Regions from separate parts of the Homo sapiens genome. Here region 2 is linked to region 1. Evidence: fine-mapped expression QTL. Tissue or cell type: fibroblasts. Region 1 holds a variant in brackets; the other region holds the start of a gene. All regions are shown on one strand. Distances are between the middles of the regions.

Evidence for each region. PIP is the estimated chance that this variant, and not a neighbour inherited with it, causes the effect.
Region 2: it holds the start of APCDD1L-DT, and the variant in region 1 is fine-mapped to the expression of APCDD1L-DT in fibroblasts (GTEx, PIP above 0.99). The same link has a PIP of 0.9 or more in damaged cartilage and subcutaneous fat.

Annotation. Positions count from the first base shown.
Region 1 is chr20:58,538,574-58,545,782 of GRCh38, forward strand. The region is part of intron 5 of APCDD1L-DT (APCDD1L divergent transcript); the gene reads left to right. Among named protein-coding and RNA genes, the nearest start is that of APCDD1L, 27 kb to the left of the region's middle. RefSeq lists an enhancer at 3,010-4,209. The variant A/G (reference allele first, on the strand shown) is at 3,441.
Region 2 is chr20:58,511,669-58,518,877 of GRCh38, forward strand. It overlaps APCDD1L-DT (APCDD1L divergent transcript), which reads left to right and starts at 3,711. Exons shown (of 7, transcript NR_034147.1): 1 at 3,711-4,072. APCDD1L (APC down-regulated 1 like) reads right to left here and starts at 3,731. Exons shown (of 4, transcript NM_153360.3): 1 at 2,991-3,731. The coding sequence starts at 3,039. RefSeq lists an enhancer at 2,334-3,332.

The sequences.
Region 1 (7,209 bases):
TCCTTTCCTTTCATCACCTATGATTCTAATCACCCTTGGCTAATTCCTACCTACCCTCTAAGTCTCAGCTCCAAAATCATGTCTTCAGGGAAGCCCTCTGTATCAGTCAGCACAAGCTTAGTTGACTTGCAGTAATGAACAACCTCAAACTTGCAGTGGCTTTAAACCATCAGAACATATTTTCTGCCACATGTTCCCTGTTGGGTGGCTAGGGGATCTGCCACCATGATACTTTTGAATCTTTGCTCCAGAACCTTGTCCATGGACCAGCCACTACCTGGACTGTCAATAGGCAGTGGTAGAGGGAAAAAAGGCTCTGGTAGGTTTCACACAGGGGATTAAGGCTCACCAGGAATGACTCTTATGTGTCTCCCACTCTCGCCAGAACTAGTCACAGGCCACATTGACCACAGGGGCCAGGAAGTTCAGTCGCATCTTGTACTCAGAAGGAGAGAGAACTGAGATATTTGGAGGGTTGCACCAATGACTAATGACAATTTGCCTGAACCCCAAACTGAGTTAGGCCATGCTATTGTGTGCTTTGTCTATTTCACCTTTCTAACACACACCATTGTGCAGTCATGTGTTTGTGTGACTATTTGATTATCGTCTATGTCTCCCACCAGGCTGAATTTCACAAGGGCAGGGCCCTATTGGAACTGTTGACTGCTCTATCCCTGTTTCTGTCACTTGCCCCTTGCAGACATTTGAGAAGTTTGGTGTCTATAGCAGTCAATCATTGGAAAATAGATGCTGGTCTCTTTATCCTGCCATCTCTAGATACCTTTTCTTCTTTTAATTATTCACCGCAGAAATTTATATACCCATCTCCCAGCTTCCACAGTTATCAACATGCCAATCTTGTTTCATCAAATTCCCATATTTCATTGCAGAAATTTTTGAGTCTATAAAAAATAGAATCATATAGTAAACTCTCATGTAACCATCTCCCAGCTTAAACCGTTATCAACATGCCAATCTTGTTTCACTGAATTCCCATATTCTCTCCCCACCTCTATTTTAAAGTGAACACATCCTATCATTTCATTCACAAGTCATTCACTACAATGTAATACCATTACTGTGCCTCAAAAATGGACAGTCATTTTAAAATATCATATAATACCCAGTCAATGTTGCAATTCCATTGATGGCCTCATAAATGCTTTGTTTAAATTAAGATCCAAAGAAGATCCACACATTGCATTTGGTTGATTTGGTTTTGGAAATCTTTAGTGAATCTCCATTCCCTTTTTTATTTTCTTATTTTTCTATTGGAAACCATATCACCCATCCTGTAGCCTTTGCCATAATCTTGATTTTGCTGATGGGATGGTGTCTTCTGATATGTTCCTCTGTCCCCTGTGTGTCCTGCAAACCTGTAGCTAGCTCTCAGTAAGATCTAGAAGTTTGATGATGTTCATATTTGACTTTTTTGGCAAGAATTCATCAGAGTTGTCATTGTATACTTGTACTGCCTCATTCCACGTGATGTCTGTTTGTCTGTTAAGCTTCCTCAGAGGTTTTGGGGTTTGCCAGCCTGATCCACCATGGTACCCACCTTCATCCACGGTACCCACCCCCATCCCCCAATTCCCAGTGATCCCACTCCTGTTTACTTTGTTCCACTTTCTTACAAGAAAAATCACATCCTAAAATGTTCCCTCCTTGCACGGAAAACCCATCCAGACGAGGCTCAAGTCATAAAAGAGCATGAGACATGGATCTCCATTTGTTATGAAGTTAGTGGGCATCAGCTTTATCAACAGCCCCCATCTTTAATCAAGAAGAAATTACCCACTGGTGGGACATTATGGTTTTCTTTTACAACTAGCTCGTTTTTTAAAAAATTAATTTCAGTTCAATTTTTTTTTTAATTTTACATTTCGGGATCCATGTGCAGGATGTGCAGGTTTGTTACATGGGTAAACGTGTGCCATGGTGGTTTGCTGCCCCCATCAGCCCATCACCTAGGTATTAAACCCCACATGCATTAGCTATTTATCATGATGCTTTCCCCCACTATCCCCCTACACAGGCCCCAGTGTGTGTTGTTCCCCTCCCTGTGTCCATGTGTTCTCATTGTTCAGCTCCCACTTACAAGTGAGAACATCCGGCATTTGGTTTTCTGTTCCTGTGTTCGTTTGCTGAGGTTAATGGCTCAGTTCAACTTTTAAGCAAGGAAAGAGAAGGATAATTGTGCAGCGTTTCCTGAAAAGTTATGAAAGAAAGCAAAGGGTCATTTTTCAGAACTCCTCTCCCACCATTAAGAATCATCCATCGTGGCTCTTCCTTGCATCTTGCAGCCGAGCTGTAAGCCCTGGAATTGGCTGATGGGGCTTTGCTTCCAGAGATGTTTCTCAGATCCTCCTATTTACAAGGAGGGTGTTTGGAACTAGAAAAAAGCTGGAGGTTCGCATCAGGGGAAATTCTCAGTGCAGCTCACACACTCTCATGCCTGCTGGGAATCCGGGCCCTCCCCACTCCCACCTTCTCCTCTGCAGCCCTCTCCTCTCTTCTCCATCCTTATTTCCATTCGAATCAGTGGTTATGGGGTGCTGTCAGGCCTGAGCACCGATGAAGGGATTTTTCAAGCTGTAATTTGTCATGTGGATGAAGGTTTGATCCCTTGTTTGGTGCCCGCAACATTGGGGTCCTAATTTCCACTCCAGGGCCAGTTCTCTGTGGAGCAGGGCAAAGCTTGCCTAACCTTTCTATGTTAGTTTCATCTCCTGGAAAATAGAGTTAATATCTACCCTGCTCCTAGGAACACGGGAATTAGTTATTGTTTTTTCAGAGTGCTAATCTCATACCTTTGCCAACACAAGGCAATTCCACCAACAGCCCCCAAATTATATCTGATCACACAGTGGCTGAATGTGTTGATCATCACTACTTCCATTGTGAAACTCCAAACGAATATTTTTAAGGTTGCCACTTTATTCATAAATCCAAGAAGTTATCACAGCCACTGCAGTGAGTGAGGTTCAGAGCTGAGGGCCACTTGGAAAAAATCACCACCCACTCCAGCCCCGGCCTCCATCCAAGGCTAGGCAGGCTATCACGAAGCAAACGAGAAGGTCACGACAGGCTGCAGCTTCGTCCCTTTCCATTTCGGGCTATGATTAATCTTTTCTGATGTTCTTTTATTTGAAAAAATAATCTAAACTGGCCCCAGACAGAACCAACTCTCCTTAAAAGGGAAATCTACATGAAAGGACGGAATGTTGCTCACAGAGAGAAAAGACAGGGAACCCATCGCTGGAGGTTTGAGGCTCCTGAGGAGAGCACTAAGGTGCCTCGTCTTTAACTTATGGGCATAACGGGAGAGCTCTTTCTTCTTGAAGTTGGTGATTCACAACCTCATTTGAGGTCTGATTCCATCAAAAATACATCCAGCTCCAAGGGCTGCCAAAAAAAAGGAGGTTTTCTCTAACCCA[A/G]GAGACCCCACACAGTTTCTCCTCCAGCCTGGAGACCTGGGTGTACTGTCAGGGCCCCCACCTTCAGTTCTCCTGCCCTCCTGAGTTGTAAGCAGTCCCCAGGAAAGACTCTTCAAGAGGCAGGCCGCTTGGGTCTGGATGGTTCTCTAAGTCAGAGTTTCTCAACTGATGTGCGACTGACATTTGGGGCTGAGTCACTGGGGTGGTGGGGACAGATCTTTGGGGCTGAGTCACTGGGGTGGTGGGGACAGATCTTTGGGGCTGAGTCACTGGGGTGGTGGGGACGGATCTTTGGGGCTGAGTCACTGGGGTGGTGGGGACGGATCTTTGGGGCTGAGTCACTGGGGTGGTGGGGACGGATCTTTGGGGCTGAGTCACTGGGGTGGTGGGGACGGATCTTTGGGGCTGAGTCACTGGGGTGGTGGGGACGGATCTTTGGGGCTGAGTCACTGGGGTGGTGGGGACTGACCTGTGTATCACGGGAGGTTTAGTAGCCTTCCTGCTCCCACCCACTGGATTCTGTGAGCAGCCCCTTCTCCCATTGCAACAACCAAAAATGTCTTCAGACATTGCCAAATGCTTCTGGGTGAGAGGGCGCAAAATCACCCTGGTGGCAATTCATGGAGCTGTTGGTCCCACAGCCCTTTCCAGGGTGCCTTCATGTCCACAGGGAACCTTCAAAGTGCCAGGGTCTTTGGCTGAGTGGGTGAGACCTTGGGAAGGCAGAGCATGGAGCTGTCCTGACACGGGAGCATTTTTTTCCCTTGTGCACACATCCGCCTGGCAACCGTGCTACGAGTCACTGTGGCCTGCCTCCCAGGTGCCCCTTTGAATTGTGCCCACAAACCAGGTGGTTAATCAGCTCTCCAGCGCTGCTTGGAAGCGTCCCTGCCTAAGCGAGCATGTAATTACCAGCTCGCACCCTCAGCCGTGGACACGCAGGAGAGCAGCGGCAGAAACGGGTGGCTCATTGCAGGAGGGGGAGCGGGGGACTCTGGCCTTTGAAGCGTGACATGAATGCCAAAGATGATGGTGTCCGTCCCCTTTGGAGACTGGACATGTTTTGCTGGCCTTTACTGGAACACAGCCACCGGATCCCTGCAGATGGCTAGGGCTTCCTGAGCTACCTGTTTGAGGGAGCGGGCCCCCAGCCCCGGGGGGCACCTGAAGAGCGGCCTAAGCCTGCACACACCTTGGCCTCTTGTTAGGTCCAGGGGGGTGTTTTATTTGGCAGCCTTGTTCCCCATCGTATCAAACGAATTAAAATACGCCCACACTAACTATAGTTTGTTTGCAGTAAAAATATTTGAAAGGAGTTTAATGATTTTGCTTCTTAAATTATCTAGCAGCAGGTAATTCATCAAAGTTGCAATTACCTGTGATTTGCCCCACAACCAATAGGCATCCTTAGGCATTCTTGCAATGGTTTTCTCAAACGTAATGCAGTTTTTATGACGACGACATCATCAATACAGCACCCAGCAAGCAGTGAGGAGGCTGCACTGCTATAGTTGGCAGGCGTTTAATGAAGCATTTATTAATTTTGATTTTGTGGCTTTCTTGTTGAATTTTGGAGCCCATAATTTTCTTCCACATTGCACACACTTGCGTGGACCCCAGAAAGGTTCATGCCTAAGGCTCTTGGGGGTTTGTGGGTGGGTGGGGGTGCTCTTTTTTCTTGGCAGTATGCTGAAGGTGAGAAGATTCCAGAGGTAGCTGAACAGTTGCTTTGCTGGGGAGGGTTTGCTTAGCTGCTGGAGTCACTCCCAGTTTCCTCTTTCTTGGTTTTTGTGGTGGTAAAAATTAAGTCCAAGCATCTGGAGAGCCACATGTGTGATTTGCAAACATCAAACACAGCATTCATTCCTTATTTCTTGATTAATTTATTGGCTGTCGGCTTTCTGATCAGTCTACCAGCTGGGCATTTTACTTTTCTCTTACTGCGAACGAGGCGTAATTGCTGGGACGCAAACCGGTCGGAAAAACAATGAGAAATTAGGCATAATTGGGCGGCATTTCCTGACGAACTATAATGCCAAGCTCAACATGGGAGCCAGTGTTTTATTTTCTTTTTTACAAAAAGGGACTTCACAGTTATTCCTAGCGCGTGAGTTTTCCTCCCCACTGCTTTCCAATGCCTGGGACTGAGCGGAGGGGGTGATTTCCTTCTTCCCAATCAGAGGTAGCGAATCTCTCAGAGCTTATGGTAATATTTAAAGACATAAAAAGGACAGGACAATTAGAAATGTGCACAGGTAGCTTTAGGGCTGACGTTATTGATGCCTTTGTGATCAATAGCACTATTTTTATTTGGATTGCTAGCCATAGGAAGCTACGGCCACAAAATTTAGAGAGCCCTGCAGAGGGCCTGTAAAACCCTGTTGTAACTCTCATGTCAGGCCGGGAATAACGGCTGATTTAAAGGCTTTGGCTGGTGCAGTGAGGCGGGGTTTCCATCAGTGTATGCCCAGGAGAGGGGATTACATCTGCCTGGCGTCCAGACCCCAGGTGGAGTGAAGCCGTTTATAACACAATTTGGCTGCAGTTGAATTTTAATCTTGGGATCCACCGATTGCTTTAAGGGCGAGCTCGAGAAGCCGCCATTTGTTTTTGATAGCTTTACCCAGAGACTAAAGAAATCCCTCCCCCCACAGTTGTTCTGTTAGGGGTTGTGTCTGTGGAAGGGAATTGAAAGAGAAGATTTGGTAAATAGGAGCCATGGACTGTCGTGCTTTCTGGATGAACTGTGTGGACACTGGCTTTCTGATAATCATCGTAGCTAATATTCACTGGGTGCTAATGAGACGTGAGGATGCTGCTAAGCACATTTCACATCATGTTTATCTTCTTAATTGTTTATTTTATTTTATTATTTTTTTTGAGACAGACTCTCACTCTGTTGCCCAGGCTGGAGTGCGGTGGTGCAATCACCACTCACTGCAGCCTCTGCCTTTGAAAGGGCTCAAGCAATCTTCCCACCTCAGCCTCCCGGGTAGCTGGGACCACAGGCACATGCCACCACGCCTGGCTAAATTCTTTTGTATTTTTTGTAGTTTTGTAGAGATGTGGTCTCCCCATGTTGCCCAGGCTGGTCTTGAACTCCTAGGCTCAAGCAAGCCACCCACCTTGGCCTTCCAAAGTGCTGGGATTATAGGCCTGAGCTACCATGCCCAGCCACATCATGTTTATTTAAAAACAAACAAACAAACAAAAACAAAACCCAACTCACAACAACCTGTGAGAGACTATCTCAGGCCCATCTTCTGGACCCGCACTGGCCAATATGGTCACCATTCGTTACTGCGTTTGAAATGTGGCCAGTCCATACAGAGACAAGTTGTAAATGTCAAACATTCACCAGATTTCAGACTTGAGGTGAAAAAAAAAAGTGTTAAGTACTCAATAACTTTTATATTGATTACATGCTGGGATTTGGGTGATATAAAATGTATAACGAAAATTGTATTCTTTTGATTGTGTACCCATTTGTTTTTACTTTTTGAAAATGTGGCTAGGAAATAAAAAATTATGGATGTGATTCACATCATACTTCTAAGGCACTGATCTTAGAAGAAGAAAAGACACACAGACCTGTAATCCCAGCACTCTGGGAGGCCAAAGTGGGCGGATCACCTGAGGTCAGGAGTTTGAGACCAGCCTGGACAACATGATGAAACCCCATCTCTACTAAAAAGGCAAAAATTAGCGGGCGTGGTGGCATGCTACTTAGGAGGCTGAGTCAGGAGAATTGCTTGAACCTGGGAGGCGG
Region 2 (7,209 bases), 27 kb before region 1:
TGTTTGTTTTAAGTAACTAATACGATTACGGGTCTCTATTCACATTAGATTTTTGGATGAGTGTATTTAAGTAATTTTCTTCTTAGTTTTTATTCTGGGTTTCAAGGCAGAGCTCCACATCAACTAATTTATTATGGAATAGCTTGTGATTTTGACCTAGTTAATCTGACTGTAAATGATAACTTGCCATCGCAAAGTATATAGCGAGAGATAAAAGCAGAGCTGAAATTAGAAAAAAAAAATACAAGTTCGAAAAAAAAGCAGCAGCTATGGTTTCTCATTTTCCCCCTCCAGCATAAATTGTTGAGTAATGAGATTTTTAAAAGCCAGAAATTGCTGTGGAGTGAACCAACACTGGCAGCTGGAGAACTGGCACCAGACACATCTGGCCTGACAGGGTTTGAAGGAAGGTTCGCTGCAGTGGGTGACTACCCATACCGCAGCCTGGCTCCTGCGGCCGCCATGCGGACATGTTCAGATACAAGAGGGAGGGAGAGCAAATGGGAAAAATCAACGTCCAAATTAGAAACTACCTAAGCTATGTTGTTTTTCTTGGGGCCCCACTGTGCCTTTGATTTCCTGATCGTTCAGAGCAAGAATAACAAAATCCGTCTAACCCAGTGATTTTGACGGATTCGTCTGAAAAACTACCTGTTGGGTTTGATCTGTTCATACCAGTGATTCTCAACTGGGGGCCACTTTATCACCTGGAGACATGTGGTCATATCTGGAGACATTTTCAGTTATCATAACTAGGAGGAGGTGCAACTGGCATCTGTAGGAAGAGGGCAGGGATACTGCTAAGCACCCCAAAATGCACAGGACGGGCCCCTCATCCCCAACAAAGAATCCTCTGGTGCCAAATGTCAATAGCGGCGAGGTTAAGAACCCCTAACGTGTGTGTACTCAATCTGAATTCTCTTGGTGGGGTGGCTGGTGTGCCATTATATATATAGTTTCTGGAACCTGGAGACATGAAGTTCAGGCGTGCCCAGCTCAGGCACCTAAATTATGTCAGTAGCTGAAGGATTAACTGGGTCCTGTTTCCTTTTACTAAAGCAAAAGGATCTCATCACCTGGTGATGTAGCCAGCGGTGAAAAGAGCTTTTCAAAGAAGCGTTCAGTGGAAAATAGTGCCCGGTGTAGAGCTGGGAGCTGCAGTGGCAGGCTGAACGGCACCCTCCCCCTTTCTGGTGGCTGTGTCTGAATTGAGGGCAGGCTGCCCCCCTCTCTCGTCAGGCCCCCGGGCACTCTTGGCTTCTCTGCTGTTGAATCTGTCTGATTTGCTGTGGTGAAAGGTCACCGAGGAGCTGGGCAGCAAGACTCCCCAAGAGCCAGCCACGGCTCTACACTCACAGTGATTTCATTGGCATGACGGGAAGCTCCGGCCTGCCAAAGACAACAGCCATGTGCTGTGACTGAGACTGCAGGTTCCTGGGGCATGTGTCCCACCACTCTAGACTGTTCCATTCCCACTGGGTGCAACGGCCTGGAGGAGGCGGATGAGAGCAGATGGACACCCGGTTTCCCCATCCTGTCCTCCCTATCTCAGCACCCAGCAGAGGCGCGCTTCCACAGCTGGCCCCCTTGTCACCCTTTCCAGTTTGCATTTTCCTGCCCTTTCGAAAGAACCAGCAGGGGTGAGGTGGTCTATTTTCATGCTGATGATCAACTAACTCTGTGGCCAAGGACAGCTGTGTCACCTCTCGCTCCCAGACTGGCAGGGGAAGCGGCCCCTGGATGAATGTCCCTTTCGACAGGTGAATCTGCAACTCTTCAAACTGCGGAGGCACCCTCCCCTGACCCTCCTTCAGACCCCTGCCAGTTCTTCTCAAAACAGCTTGTTTAGAAATTTGGGGGCTGGGAAGAAAAGACTGTGATTGAAGAGCTCCTCGAGGTGACTTAGACTTTGCTCCTTGCCTATACATGGAGCAGAGCGTGCTCTGTGGGACCGCGCAGCCCCTCTTCACCCCGGGGTTCTCGGCTGCCATTCCCTGAACATGAGCTCAGTGCCAGGCAGCAAGTGGAGTGATCCTCCTGCACGTGCTCTCGTAATCTTCACAATCATCCCAGACGGAGGAGGGGATTTTGTGAGCCCATTTGACAGGAAAGAAAGTCAAGGCTGAGAGAGCCGATGGCCATGCTTACCCAAAGCCAGACGGGTTGATATGATGTTGATCTGGGCTTCCCAGCCAGGTGGTCTAACTCCAGGGCCAGAATTCTCAGCCATTCATAATGTGAGGGTGCTTGGGGATGAGCCCCCAGCTGGGCACACTTCAACTGTGGTTACTGTCATTTTTGTCAGTGGTGACTGGGCCCCTGTGATGGCACACTCCAGTCAGCTGGCCTTTGTACAGTTTTGTCTACCCTACTCCCCACCCCCACGAAGAGCCACCAGGGAACCCCTTAGTCCTGGAGAAGGCATTGACTACTCTACCAGGGGTTCCTGAAGCCCCTTGGTCCCCTTTGTCAGGCCTGCTGGGCACAACTCGAGCCTGGGGTCACTGCGCGCTCCCTAGCTTCTCCCCGAGTCCTGCTGCAGGAAGAAGCCCCGACCCCGCACAGGTCAGGATTCCGTGGGCAAAAACAACCCCAGTAACCTTGGTCTGAATAGCCGGGCTTGTCCCGCACCATGGGGGTCTCAGTGGGCCTGGGATCCTCCTGCATCTTCTTGGAGGCCCCGGTCCCACTGGGCCCGGCACAAAGGGCAGCTCTGGGTACCTACAGGCCAGGCCCCGACTGGCGCAGAGAGTGCAGCGGCTCTCATATTGCGAGGTGACGCGACTCCCTCCCGCAGGCCCCAGGAAGCTCCTGGAGGCGCGCAGGTGCCGGCCAGGTGAGACTGGAGAAAGGCGCGCAGGGCGCAGCATAGCAGCCGCGTGGGCCGACCCAGGGCCGTAGTCCCCAAGGGCCCTTAGGGGACATTAGACGGCGAGCTCCCTCCCTTCCGAGCTCAGCCAGTTTGCCGGGTGGGGGAGGGTGGCACCTACCTCCCAAAAGCACCAGGACGCAAGCGTAGGGGAGCATGGCTGCGGGCATCCCGTCGGGGCTGGCAGGACCGCCCGCCGGGCGCTGCCACGGTGCGCAAGGGGAGGCGCGGGCGCAGGGCTCTCGGACGGCTGCGGGCGCCGGCGGCCAGGCTGGAGTCCTGCGAAGAAGTTGCGAGGGTCCTGCGCCCCCCTCGGCGCTCACACGCGCTCAGCCTTCCCGGCTGTTGATAGTTGTAAGCGGAGCTGCGCACTCATAGGTCCAACTTGCCAGAAGAGGTGGAGACAGCCCCCGGCGAGGCGCGCACACCCGCGCAGCGCGCACAGCCCCCTGGTGCAGCTCCTGCCATTCAGACCCCCAGCCCTCCCCCAGATGTCCGTCCCCTGGCCGTCGCCTTCCCCAAAGTCTTCGCAGTGGGCAAGGAGGCCTCCCCCAAGCTCTGGTCCCGGCCAAGGCAGAGCGATGCGCTCCTTGCGTCAAAGCGCACCCCTAGCCAGGCCGTTCCCTGGAAGGGCAAGCGGGGCGGGGAGTTCCTCTAAGCCCCGCCAGTCCTGGGACCCCTGAAGTTTCTATTCAGGTCTTCCAGCTACTCCTGGAAAAGTCGCGTCAACTTGGATCCCAGCAAACCCAGAAGCGCAGTGAAAGTGGCCAACCCGGTCGCCTAGAAGCCAGCCCCGGCCTCTGTCTGTAAATGAGGCCGTCACCCGCTCCCCACCACACCCAAACGCATCTAGGCAAAGTGTGGACCCGACCAGGCGGGTTTTCCTCCTTCTCGCAACTCCTCCTCCTGCCCCCCTCCCTCCCAAATCTCATCTGAGTGAGTCAGCTGAGGGTGGCAGCTCAGAAGCGAGGCAGCCGTGAGGCGGAGGACAGGCTGGGGGATCCCAAAGGGTGCGCTCCAGCCCCCAACCCAGGCACTGGGACTCTGGTGGCACCCTGGGTGGCAGGCAAGCCTTGAAATCAAGTGCACGAGCCTTGGAAAGGAGGACCGGGAGAGTTATGGCATTTATGAATGAAGAAGAGAAAGAGAATCACTCGGATGGGAAAAGTTAACTGGATTGTTCCCACCTGCATGGATCACCGGGTAACTGCAGTGGGACCGAGGGGGCGAGGCTGCGGGCTGGGGATGTGCGGGTTTCCTTGTGTTGCCACGAACCCAGAGAGGGAGAGGAAGAAGATGGAAAGAAAAAGGAAAAAGGGAAAGAAAGTAAGAGGGGAGAGAGGGGAAAACTGAGGATGAAGAGAGACAGAGAAGAGAGACCTGAGAGAGGGAGAGAAAGAAAGAGACAGAAAGAGAAATGAAAGTGAGGAAAGGGGAAACAGGCAGAGAAAGAGAGAGAAAGGGGAGGAAAGAGAAAGGGAAAAGAAAGGAGGGAGTGAAATCAACAGAAAAAAGAGAACCAGGAAGGAGGAGGGAGGGGGAGAGAGAAGAGAGAAGAGAGAGAAGAGAGAACAAGAGAGAAGAGAGAAGAAGAGAGAAGACAGAGATGCGGTCTCCCTGGGGAAAGGTTTGGAGAACTGGGCCAGGCCTGTTTCCCGGGACTCACGAGTGAGCAGTCCACCTGCCCCTCTGAAGCATTTTATAGACTCATTTGTCCCACTTTTGTGGGCTGATCATCCCACAGGGGAACAGGGGACACCACCTCACCTTTTGATTTCTTACCAGAAACTTGGGCGAGGCTTCCAGGAGCCACAAGAGCCCTTCAATCCACCCAGGGACCCCCGATGTGGGCCCACCAGCCATCCTTAGCTTTCCTCCTCTCCAGAGGCAACAGGGAATAGGAAAAAGTCCAGAGCAAGGCCACACCATGATCTTAACGCAAATGGAAATGTGAGGAAAACGATCAATTTGCTTCCTGAAAATGACATTTTTTTTTTCTGGTTTCTATGAGACTCGAGGTGGCCTTGCTGAAACTGAAATCGGTATGAGCTTTCCCTGGCAGACAATGGCCATTGTCACATATTAAATTCTCATGAAAGGGATAACTTTGTGGGCAAGAGGAGAGTTGTGCAGGGTGATTATTTATACTTGCATAATTGTGATTATTTGTGGCAATTATGGGTCTTTCAATGTACAAAATTTACAATTATGGGTAGTTTAAAAACTACATGCTAAGGCCGGGTGCCGTGGCACACACCTGTAATCCCAGCTCTTTGGGAGAGCCAGACGGGTGGGTCACCTGAGGTCAGGAGTTTAAGAGCAGCCTGGCCAACATGGTGAAACCCCGGCTCTACTAAAAATACAAAAATTAGCTGGGCGTGGTGGCGGGCGTCAGTAATCCTAGCTACTCCAGAGGCTGAGGCAGGAGAATCACTTGAACCTGGGAGGCGGAGGTTGCAGTGAGCTGAGATCATGCCATTGCACTCCAGCCTGTGTGACAAGAGTGAAACTCCATCTCAAAAAAAAAAAAAAAAAAGTTAAAACTACATGCTATTCTGGCCATAATCATTTGAGACTTCAGTCTCTGGGCTTTCCGGATGTGGGTATTTCAAAGTCCCAGGCGGCTGATGGGGGTTCACGCATTAGTGGCATTTTGTGGGGAGAATGGGTGTTACATTGATGTCCTACATAGGGTCATAATTCAGTATTTTCAGAACTTATTGTACTGCTGTTAGAGATACGAACTTTTCCACAAAGTATGATGCTTGTGTATTAATAGTTGTACTGGCTTATTTATAAATGAGAGGATTTGCTGATAATTATTGAGACTGTGGCATGGGCCAGGCACTAGTTAGGTTGAGTACTTTATATGCATGTACTTTATACCTGAACAAATTGACAAGAAGTGGGAATTACGGTCAGGCCATTTTACAAACTGGGGCAACTGAGTTCAGAGAGTTTGGGCCACTGTCCTGAGGCCAGGCAGCTGGAAGGTGGCAGAACTCCCGGATCCCTGCTTCCAACCACCGCGCTGTGTCTCCAGGACACGTCCTGTCTCACTGGGTTTTCTGCTCCTTTCCAAATCTGAGGACCCCAAAAGAAAAGGCCTGTTTTATAATAACGGCTTCTTTTCGAAGAGGTGTGTGAATAATGGGGGAAACACGACTCCAAAGTACTTTTTCTCTCCAGCCTGGGCAACATGGCAAAACACCATCTCTAGAAAAAATACAAAAATCCTCCAGGTGTAGTGGCACATGCCTGTGGTCCCGGCTACTCGGGAGGCTGACGTGGGAGGATCTCTTGAGCCTGGGTGGTCGAGGCTGCAGTGAGCTATGATTGTGCCACTGCACTCCAGCCTGGGTGACAGAGCAAGACCTTGTCTCAAAAAAAAAAAGTGCTTTTTCTACATCCTAGCTAAACCCCAGCTGTTGAGGCTGAGAGTTACAGGTGGGCCCTGCGCCTGCTGCATCCTCACCCTTGTGATGGGGCGACACTTGGGAGGGTGTGGGCAGCTGTAAAGGGCACTGGAGACTGACGGGTCCAGCGTTCCTCACTTTCCAGGTGAGGAAACAGAAGCGCAATGCAGGTGAGCTGACCCTGTTGAGATAACACAGATTTTACCCCACAAATAGAAAAAAGCAAAGAAAATGGACAAATAGTGTTTGAACAAGGCTGTCCTCAACTCACAAGCAGATCAAACAAGAGCAAAAGAAGGAACCGAAGCTAAAACTCATTTATTGTCTTCAAACATATATTTATTTTTAATCAAAAAAAGAAAAAAGTTATGTTATCCAGATCTTGCATTTTGCTCAGGGAAGGGTGATATACGCTTGGTTCCTGACCTCTTTCTTACCGAGTAATCGCTTGAGAGCTTTTGAAACGGCAGCAATCATAAGGCTGTTTTGGGGAGAAGCCTCAGCTCTGTGTTGGCCGTTAAGTCACGTCTGTGGGCATTATCGCATCTTGGCCTCCGTAGCTGGGCTTTCCTGGGCTGTTAACTGCAGGGGCCCTCGCTGGGTGGTCAGAGCTGCTGCGGGTGAGGTTTTGGGAGGATTCAGGGGGTCTTGCTGGGTGTGAGGGAAGCGGCCTTGAGTCAGATGTCTGTGAGTGGGACCCAGCCTTCTTGCTCCACGTTTATCTCCCACACCACCCCTTCCCCCAGAATCAAAGTCCAGGGGGAATCAGGAGGAAAGTATTGCAGAGCAGGGCCTCTTTTCCTTCCCCCTCCCCTCCAAATGCCTACCTCTTCATCCTTGTCCCTGTTAAAAACACCATGGGATCATAAGATCACCCCACAAAATCTTGCTATAAAATGGTCTGTTTCCTCTGCTTGTTATCAG